Homo sapiens: one gene and its partner. The protein of the gene in region 2 interacts with the protein of the main gene of each other region in a biochemical or structural test. Each region holds a gene or a part of one and is shown on either strand. Other genes may lie near its edges.

Evidence for each region. The genes of interacting proteins can lie anywhere in the genome.
Region 1: the proteins of BTRC (region 2) and GLI2 form a complex in vitro, tested with the Homo sapiens proteins (one study listed by BioGRID).

The regions. Positions count from the first base shown.
Region 1 is NC_000002.12:120,738,530-120,742,381, forward strand, and holds part of GLI2 (zinc finger protein GLI2), read left to right. Parts: intron 1-3,852. UniProt on the Homo sapiens protein: Functions as a transcription regulator in the hedgehog (Hh) pathway. Functions as a transcriptional activator. May also function as transcriptional repressor. Requires STK36 for full transcriptional activator activity.
Region 2 is NC_000010.11:101,357,130-101,360,981, reverse strand, and holds part of BTRC (F-box/WD repeat-containing protein 1A), read right to left. Parts: intron 1-3,852. UniProt on the Homo sapiens protein: Substrate recognition component of a SCF (SKP1-CUL1-F-box protein) E3 ubiquitin-protein ligase complex which mediates the ubiquitination and subsequent proteasomal degradation of target proteins. Recognizes and binds to phosphorylated target proteins.

The sequences.
Region 1 (3,852 bases), on a different chromosome or scaffold from region 2:
ATACAGGGAAGATCCTGCATTTGAAAGAGCCCAGCTGCCCAGGAGGTATCCCTCAGGTGAACCAGCCTTCAGTTGGGCTAGCATCTGAGTGAGAGACTGTGGTCAGAACGGTCTATTTGCAAAGCCTCTTGGAGAGAATTAGAATTATAGGTAGAAAGAATTAGAATGATAGTAGAAAGAGCCTCCCAAGCCACCGAGGAACAAGGTAAGACTGCTAGAGATGGTTTTATCCTCTGTGGGAATCGATTTGACTGAATTTGCAGTGGGTTCAGATTCCTTCAGCAGAGACTTCCGGGCTGCTCCCAAACTCATTCTGCTCTGGCCTTGAAGGGGACTCTTGACTCGTGGCTTCCTTGAAGCTTGTGTGGAGTTAGCGAGGCCCTTGTGGCCAGGCAGCCTTGGAGTGGAGTGCCACTTCACTCTCCCAGGGATGCTCTGGTCCACTGGTGGAGAGAGCACCGAATGCAGAGTCAATCCTTTGAGTTGCTTGGTCAGAAGAGGGGGCCGCAGGGCTTCTGGTCAGTGGCTCATTGCCTGGCTGCGGGGGTCTTGGGGGCTGTGTACTGTAGCTGGCTTGTTTGCACTGCAGACTGAAAAATACACAAATACTTCACGCTTTTTGTACTCCCACAAGTGCCCTGTACACAGTGCAGCCCCTGGGGCTGGATTAGCAAACCAGGGATTCAGCAGGCAGGCAGACAAAATTGGATATTTGCCTAATAAACACCCTTCTTCCATTGTCCCCCACCCCTGCCCCGGGGGTACTCCACGGGAAAACTTCACTCCACAGATGCCAGCAGTTCCCTTTAAATGGGAGTAGGAGGTTGTCATGTGCACTTTGAAAGCTTGTGTGACCCCCTCACACCCAGCTGGCTTGTTAAAGCCTAGAATCGGAGTCCTACATCCTTGTGTACTCTTTGGGTAGGGCAGCTGGCCTTTTCCTGGGGAAAGTGTGTTTAGCCCAGCTTCCTTTCATCTGCATGGCTCTTGCGGCAGGGAGGTGGAGCAAACCAGCCTTGCTTCTTGGAGGCTGTGGGGAGGAGAAAGGGGTTCTACCTGGGCCAGAGCCTGTTTCCTAGTGGACAAGGGGCAGCCAGGCCAGGTGGACCTCGCTGTGGACAGCTGCAGCTGTTCCCGCTGGGCCAGGGCCCTTTGAAAAGGAACCCGGGGGAGCACTTCCCCCCTTTCTTCTTTTCACTAAGTGTCAGAGGCATGGACAAGTGAAACACGTGAAGAATGCCAAAGAGAGAAACAGTGTTTTCAGATTCCAGAAAATTCAGAGGCAGAATAGGTGATTGTACCAACAACCAGAATGTACAGTGATTTCAGTTGCTCCTGAAATTGCTCCTGCACTTCTAAAGAAATCGGGGAGGAAAAACTGCTCTCTAATTGTTTCCTCAGGCTTGTTTAACAGATTTGAGAAAGGGTCATCCGACATTGATGTTTGAGAGTGTCCTTTGAAAAAGAGTGGCACCTTCAACACTTTTCTGGTTTTCAAATAAACACACAACACCGGATTCAACATTAATCATTTTCTCTGAAATTAATTTGAGGGTTTGCTGTGGAATATCAAGAATTAAAAAAAAAATCATTGATTATTATTTTTAGGTTTAGAGGATGACAAAAGCATCCTTAACCCACAAAACTGTATTTAAAACCTGGGAAAATGCACAGATGATAACGGTATACTTTCTGTGCATTTAATATCTTATTTTCCCCCAATTCTTTCATCAGCACAGTAATTCTCAATAATCCTGTTTGTGTTGTTTCTGGTTTCTTAAAAAACATACACATGGGGGAAAGTAACTCATTTAAGATGTGACCAAAGAGTACTTATTAAACTGTTTTGGGGATTTGGGTTTAAATTGAATAATGTTTTGTGTGTGTGCTTGCACATGTGTGTTGTTTAAAAAAAAAAAAACAGGTTGCTGGGAAGTGTGTTTTAACTGTGAGTGCCGGGTTTCAGCTATTAGCATAAGAAAAAAAGTTTTAGTGCGTTTGCCATTGTCTTGAATGAAGAGTTCAGCAAAGGGAAGGAAAGCCGCAAAAGGGTGATGGTCCATTGAGATTCTTCTGCAGCCCCGAGCTCGTCATCTGCCTCTGAAATCTGTGATCGGATATCACTTTTATCTCGCTTTTCCATTCTCTGGCCTTTTTCACACGTTCACTTTTGTCAAGGTTTATTGATTATGTTTTCTTCTCTACAAATCTGTGGAAAATTTAATGAACCAAAAACAGCAGTGAAATAAAGGGGACTTTTTATTCATTAGCACGGGATTGGGATTGATTCCCTCTTTGGGCAGCCGAGGGCCCCAGGCCTCCTGCAGGCAGCTAGAGGGAGGAGGGAGGGTGGCCCGGCTGCAGGCTGAGGCGGGGACTCCACAGGCCTGTGGCCTCCAGGCTGAGCAGCACGGGCGCAGCCCTGCACTCCTGTCCCAAGTGAACTCTGAAAGCTTGTCCGCGATGGCTGTGCCGGTTGAGCCTGTATGCAACCACGCCGCAGCCCTTACCCGCCATGTCCTCCTGGGTCCTGGCTCAGTGGGCTTGGGGGAGGTGGGGCGGGGGGTGTTGTTTGTATTTCCCAGACTTACAAACCATTTGAGTGCTGGGCCTTCCCTGGGACACAGTTAAGTATCTCCCTTCCTCCAGACCCAGCCCAAACCTGTAATTAAGCAAAGCCCCTGATGTGATTACGCTTTGCTGACTCGGCTGGGTTTGGAGCCATTCCCTCTAGGAAACAGGGTGAACTCTTGCTCTTCCCAGAGGTTTCCTGGGCAGCTTGTGGTGCACCTCTATTGTACACATGTCCGCCTGTCCCCCTCCTTTGGCTCTCTTCCTCTCCCTTCAGCTATCCGTCCGTCCTTTCTGTCTTTTTCTTTCTCCTTCCCCTTTCTCTCTCTTCTGTCCTGCCCCCACCCCCTCTTCTCTCTGGGTCTCTCCTTTCTCTCCCTCTCCGTTCTCTCTCCCCTTCTCCTTTCTTCTCTTTCCCTCCGTTTCCCCCTCCTCCGTTTCCTCCGCCTTCTCTCTCCCTCTCTTTTCTGTCTTTTCTCATCTTTTCCCATCTTTCCCTCCCGTTCCCTCCGCCTCCTCCCCGCCCCCGCCGTCTGGACCTTCCTCTCCCTCCGCGCCGGCTTTTCCGCCACGCGGAGCGCTGGCTGGCGAGGCCGCGTGTCCGAGCGGCGCCGACCGTGCCGCGGCCGGGGGACATTCCGTGCCCCGAGCGCCCCGGGCCCGCGGCTGCGGCCCTCCCACCTGCGCGCCGGCCTGGTTTGCAGCTCCCAAACAATGGCCACATTGTCGCAGCCGCACACCGGCCGCCGCCGGCGAGTGGCGGGAGGCCGGACTCTGCTCGTGGCGAGTCGGGAAGAAAGCCAACGGGCCAGGTCCCCACAGCCGCGCCCGGAGCGCGCGAGCGGCTCCCACCCGGGAAGGGCGCGGGTTCCGAGGGGCGCCCCGGGTCTTCCTCGACCCCGTTTCCCATTGGCCTGCCCTCTTGCCCGCTTCCCCAGGAGGGGCTTCCAGTTGCCTTTACAGCTGGCGAAGTGAATGAGAGCACTCCACGGGAGCCGGGAAGAGAGAGGCCCCGTGACCAAACTTTTGGTGGCGTCTGAAACTTTTTCTGTAAGGCATCTGCAGACAGTAATCACTAAGGCCGCCTTCTGCCCTTGTCCACTCCCGGCGACAGGAAAGGAAGGGCGGTCCTCTCTTCCATTCGTCTTGACCTGTAGGGATTCGAAACCTCTTAGCGCTCAGAAAAAAGATCTTTGAATGCCTGATGTTAAAAGAGCGTCCCTGGGTCCAAGATAGCCCCTTCAGCAGACGCTTAGCAATGCTTCTTTGTGTGCTGGACAA
Region 2 (3,852 bases):
AATAAAAATATAGCCAGGTGTGGTGGCACAAACCTGTAGTCCCAGCTACTCAGGAGGCTGAGGCAGAGGCATTGCTTCAGCCCAGGAGTTTGAGGCTGCAGGGAGCTCAGCCTACTGATGGCAGAGCTGCGCCCAAATAAAATAAAATACTGCTAGAAAGTAGGTGAGATTTAAAAAGTATTTTAGGCTGCGAGTGGTGGCACGCACCTGTAGTCCCAGCTACTGGAGAGGCCGAGGCACAAAGATCACTTAACCCTAGCCTGAGTTCAAGGCCAACCTGGCAACAGAGCAAGCAAGATCCCATCTCTAGAGGCCAGACGCGGTAGCTAATGCCTATAATCCCAGCACTTTGGGAGGCCGAGGCGGTCGGATCACCTGAGGTCAGGAGTTCAAGAATAGCCTGGCCAACATGGTGAAACCCCGTCTACAAAAATACAAAAATTAGTCAGGGATGATGGCAGGTGCCTGTAATCCCAGCTACTTAGGAGGCTGAGACAGGAGAATTGCCTGAACCTGGGAAGCGGAGGTTGCAGTGAGTTGAGATCGTGCCATTGCACTCCAGCCTGGGTGACAGAGCAAGACTCCATCTCAAAAAAAAAAAAAAAAAAAAAGCAGATCCCATCTCTAGGCCAGGCATAGTGACTCACGCCTGTAATCCCAGCACTTTGGGAGGCCAAGGTGGGCGGATCACTTGAAGTCAGGAGTTCGAGACCAGCCCGGGCAACACGGTGAAACCCTGTCTCTACTAAAAACACAAAATTTAGCTGGGCGTGGTGGCACATGCCTGTATTCCCAGCTACCTGGGAGGCTGAGGCACAAGAATTGCTTGAACCCAGGAGGTAGGGGCTGCAGTGAGCCAAGGTTGCACCACTGTACTCCAGCCTGGGTGACAGAGTGAGACCCTGTCTCAATTAAGTTTTTTTAAAAAAAAGAGATCTCTTTTGAAAGTTTATTTTCTAATTTAGCAATAAATAATTTCTAAAACTACTCAAAGTTGAATTTTTACTCCACATCTAATAATTCACTTTTGATAATTTATGAAAATCTACTATAAACATAAATTTAGAAAATTAGCAAAAAGAGGCCGGACACGGCAGCTCACGCCTGTAATCTCAGCACTTTGGGAGGCCAAGGCGGGCAGATCACCTGAGGTTGGGAGTTCGAGACCAGCCTGACCAACATGGAAAAGCCCTGTCTCTACCAAAAATACAAAATTAGCTGGGTGTGGTGGTGCATGCCTGTAATCCCAGCTACAGGGGAGGCTGAGGAAGGAGAATCACTTGAACCTCAGAAGCAGAGGTTGCAGTGAACTGAGTTTGCACCATTGCACTCCAGCCTGGGCAACAAGACCAAAACTCCATCTCAAAAAAAAAAAAATACAACAAAATTAGCCAGGCAAGGTGGTACACGCCTGTAATTCCAGCTACTTAGGAGGCTGAGGCAGGAGAATCATTTGAACCCAGGAGGCGGAGGTTGCAGTGAACCGAAATTGTGCCACTGCACTCCAGTCTGGGCAACAGAGCGAGACTCAGGGTATCTCAGACAAAAAAAAAGAAAATAGGCAAAAAGAATTACCACTAATTTCATACCCCAACACCTATAAGAGTACCCAGAAAACAAACTGTTTGAAAGCCAATTTAAACTGGGAATAGGTAAAGTATACACAAAAACTCAGACAACTTAAACTAAGAACTAGTTTCAGATGTTCATCCCACTACCTGGTAATCAATTTCACTGATGTAAAGAAAATTCCATTACAGTGAAACATCTGACAATTTATTTTAAAATGTAATCTGTTTAGATACCTCTGTTTCCTGAAGTAAGTAAGCAAGTTTACTTAATCACATTAATTCACCCAGTATTATGTCAACAGTGACATCATTAAGGGAAGTCACGCAGGAGATCATGTTAGTGCCTTCCGAAGTTAACCTCAAAAAAAGAGATGCCTCCTAAACATTCCTAGCATTATGACCCACAAACTTGGCCGATACCATTTTTATTTTTAGCCTTAACATCCAACTAGCATAGCACCTACGGTAGCAAGTCTCAAAAGGTGGCCCCCAGCAATTCCCCCTTCCTTGTTTATGCACGCCACCCTTCCTATCAATAGGTAGACATTATTTCTCCTCCCTCTGTAGTTGGCCTTGACTGGCTTTGACCCACAGTGACATTCTTGGACTTCCAAATCTAGGATTTAGAAGACTGGCAGTCTCTACCTCCTGTCTCCTGGAATGTCCCTTCTTAGAACCTTGCCACCACACTTTAAGGAAATCCAAGCAGCCAGGTAGAGAAAGGCCCATATAGAGGAGAAGTGAAGGTCTTTCCCACACCTCAGCCAATACCAAGTGAAGCAGAAAAACCATCAGATTTGAGGGGAAAAATAATTGTTTTTTTTAAGCTAAGTTTTGAGGTTGTCTGTTAAACAGCAAATATTTACCCTTTATACTGTTTCATTTATCTATCAGCTCTATAAATAAAACAATACATTCTAAAATTATTTCATCTATTTCAAGCTACTGTACTTGATTCTGGGATTGGCTGGACAAGAATATATTTATCCTGTTTTTAAAAATAAACGTGGCTTGGCAAGGTGGCTCACGCCTGTAATCCCAACAATGGGAGGCCAAGGCAGGAGGACCCCTTGAGCCCAGGAGTTCAAAAACCACCCCTGTCAACAAAGGGCGACCCTTGTCTCTACAAAAACAAAAAAGAAAAAAAAAATAGCCAGCATAGTGGTGTGTGCCTGTAGCCACTTGAGACGCCGAGGCAGGAGGATCATGTGAGCCTGGGAGTTTGAGGCTGCAGCAAGCTATGACTGCACTCTAGCCTGGGCAACATAGTGAGACCCTGTCTCAAAGGTGAAAACAAAAATAAAGTTCAAATTCCTCCTCAGTATGTCTTTTCAACCCCTATCTTAAACGTGCTTGTGTGTGTGTGTTTGTGTGTTTTGGGGTCTATATTCCCTCAATCATTTTCATTTCTCTTCTTAGGTTCTCTTCAAGTTTCCATTTATACTTTTGTTAACCAAAAAAGTATTAAGAAAGGTCCTTGAGGACCTGCTAAAGCTGAATGAGAGACATTAGCACGTAAGTTAATGTAAACCGTTGCTTTCAATATCATTTATTTGTTTTTAAAAGTTAAACATTCTGCTTAAACTTTTTTCACAAGTAAAACAATAAGCTTTAAGTCTCGATCACGTGTGAATTATGGTCATCTCTGAATCAGCAGTCTTATTAACAGGATTTTATTGTAAAATTCTTTATCAAGGCACTTTAGTATAGCAATGAGCAAATTTGTGAGAGTATCCATTTCATTCTGGCATTTTAAACTAATTTTACATTTGTTTAAACCATGGAAATCATGACATCTGTATAAAAGTTGTCATTAGCGATTCACAATTGAGGGAAAGGTTAAGACCAGAACAAAGCCAAATAGTAATAAAAATGCCCGTTTGATTAAAAGGATAGTTCTTCCATGTGTACTGTGCACTAATTATTTGATGCTAGCTCAAATAGCTTCCTTTTTTTTTTTTTTTTTTTTTGAGACAGAGTCTCGCTCTGTCACCCAGGCTGGAGTGTAATGGCACGATCTCAGCTCACTGCAACCTCCACCTCCTGGGTTCAAGTGATTCTACTGCCTCAGCCTCCCGAGTAGCTGGGACTACAGGTGCGCGCCACCAGGCCTGGCTAATTTTTGTATTTTTAGTAGAGACAGGGTTTCACCATGTTGGCCAGGATGGTCTCAATCTCCTGACCTCGTGTTCCGCCCGCCTCAGCCTCCCAAAGTGCTGGGATTACAGGCATGAGCCACCACGCCTGGCCAATATCTTCCTTTTTTGTTTGTTTGTTTTTT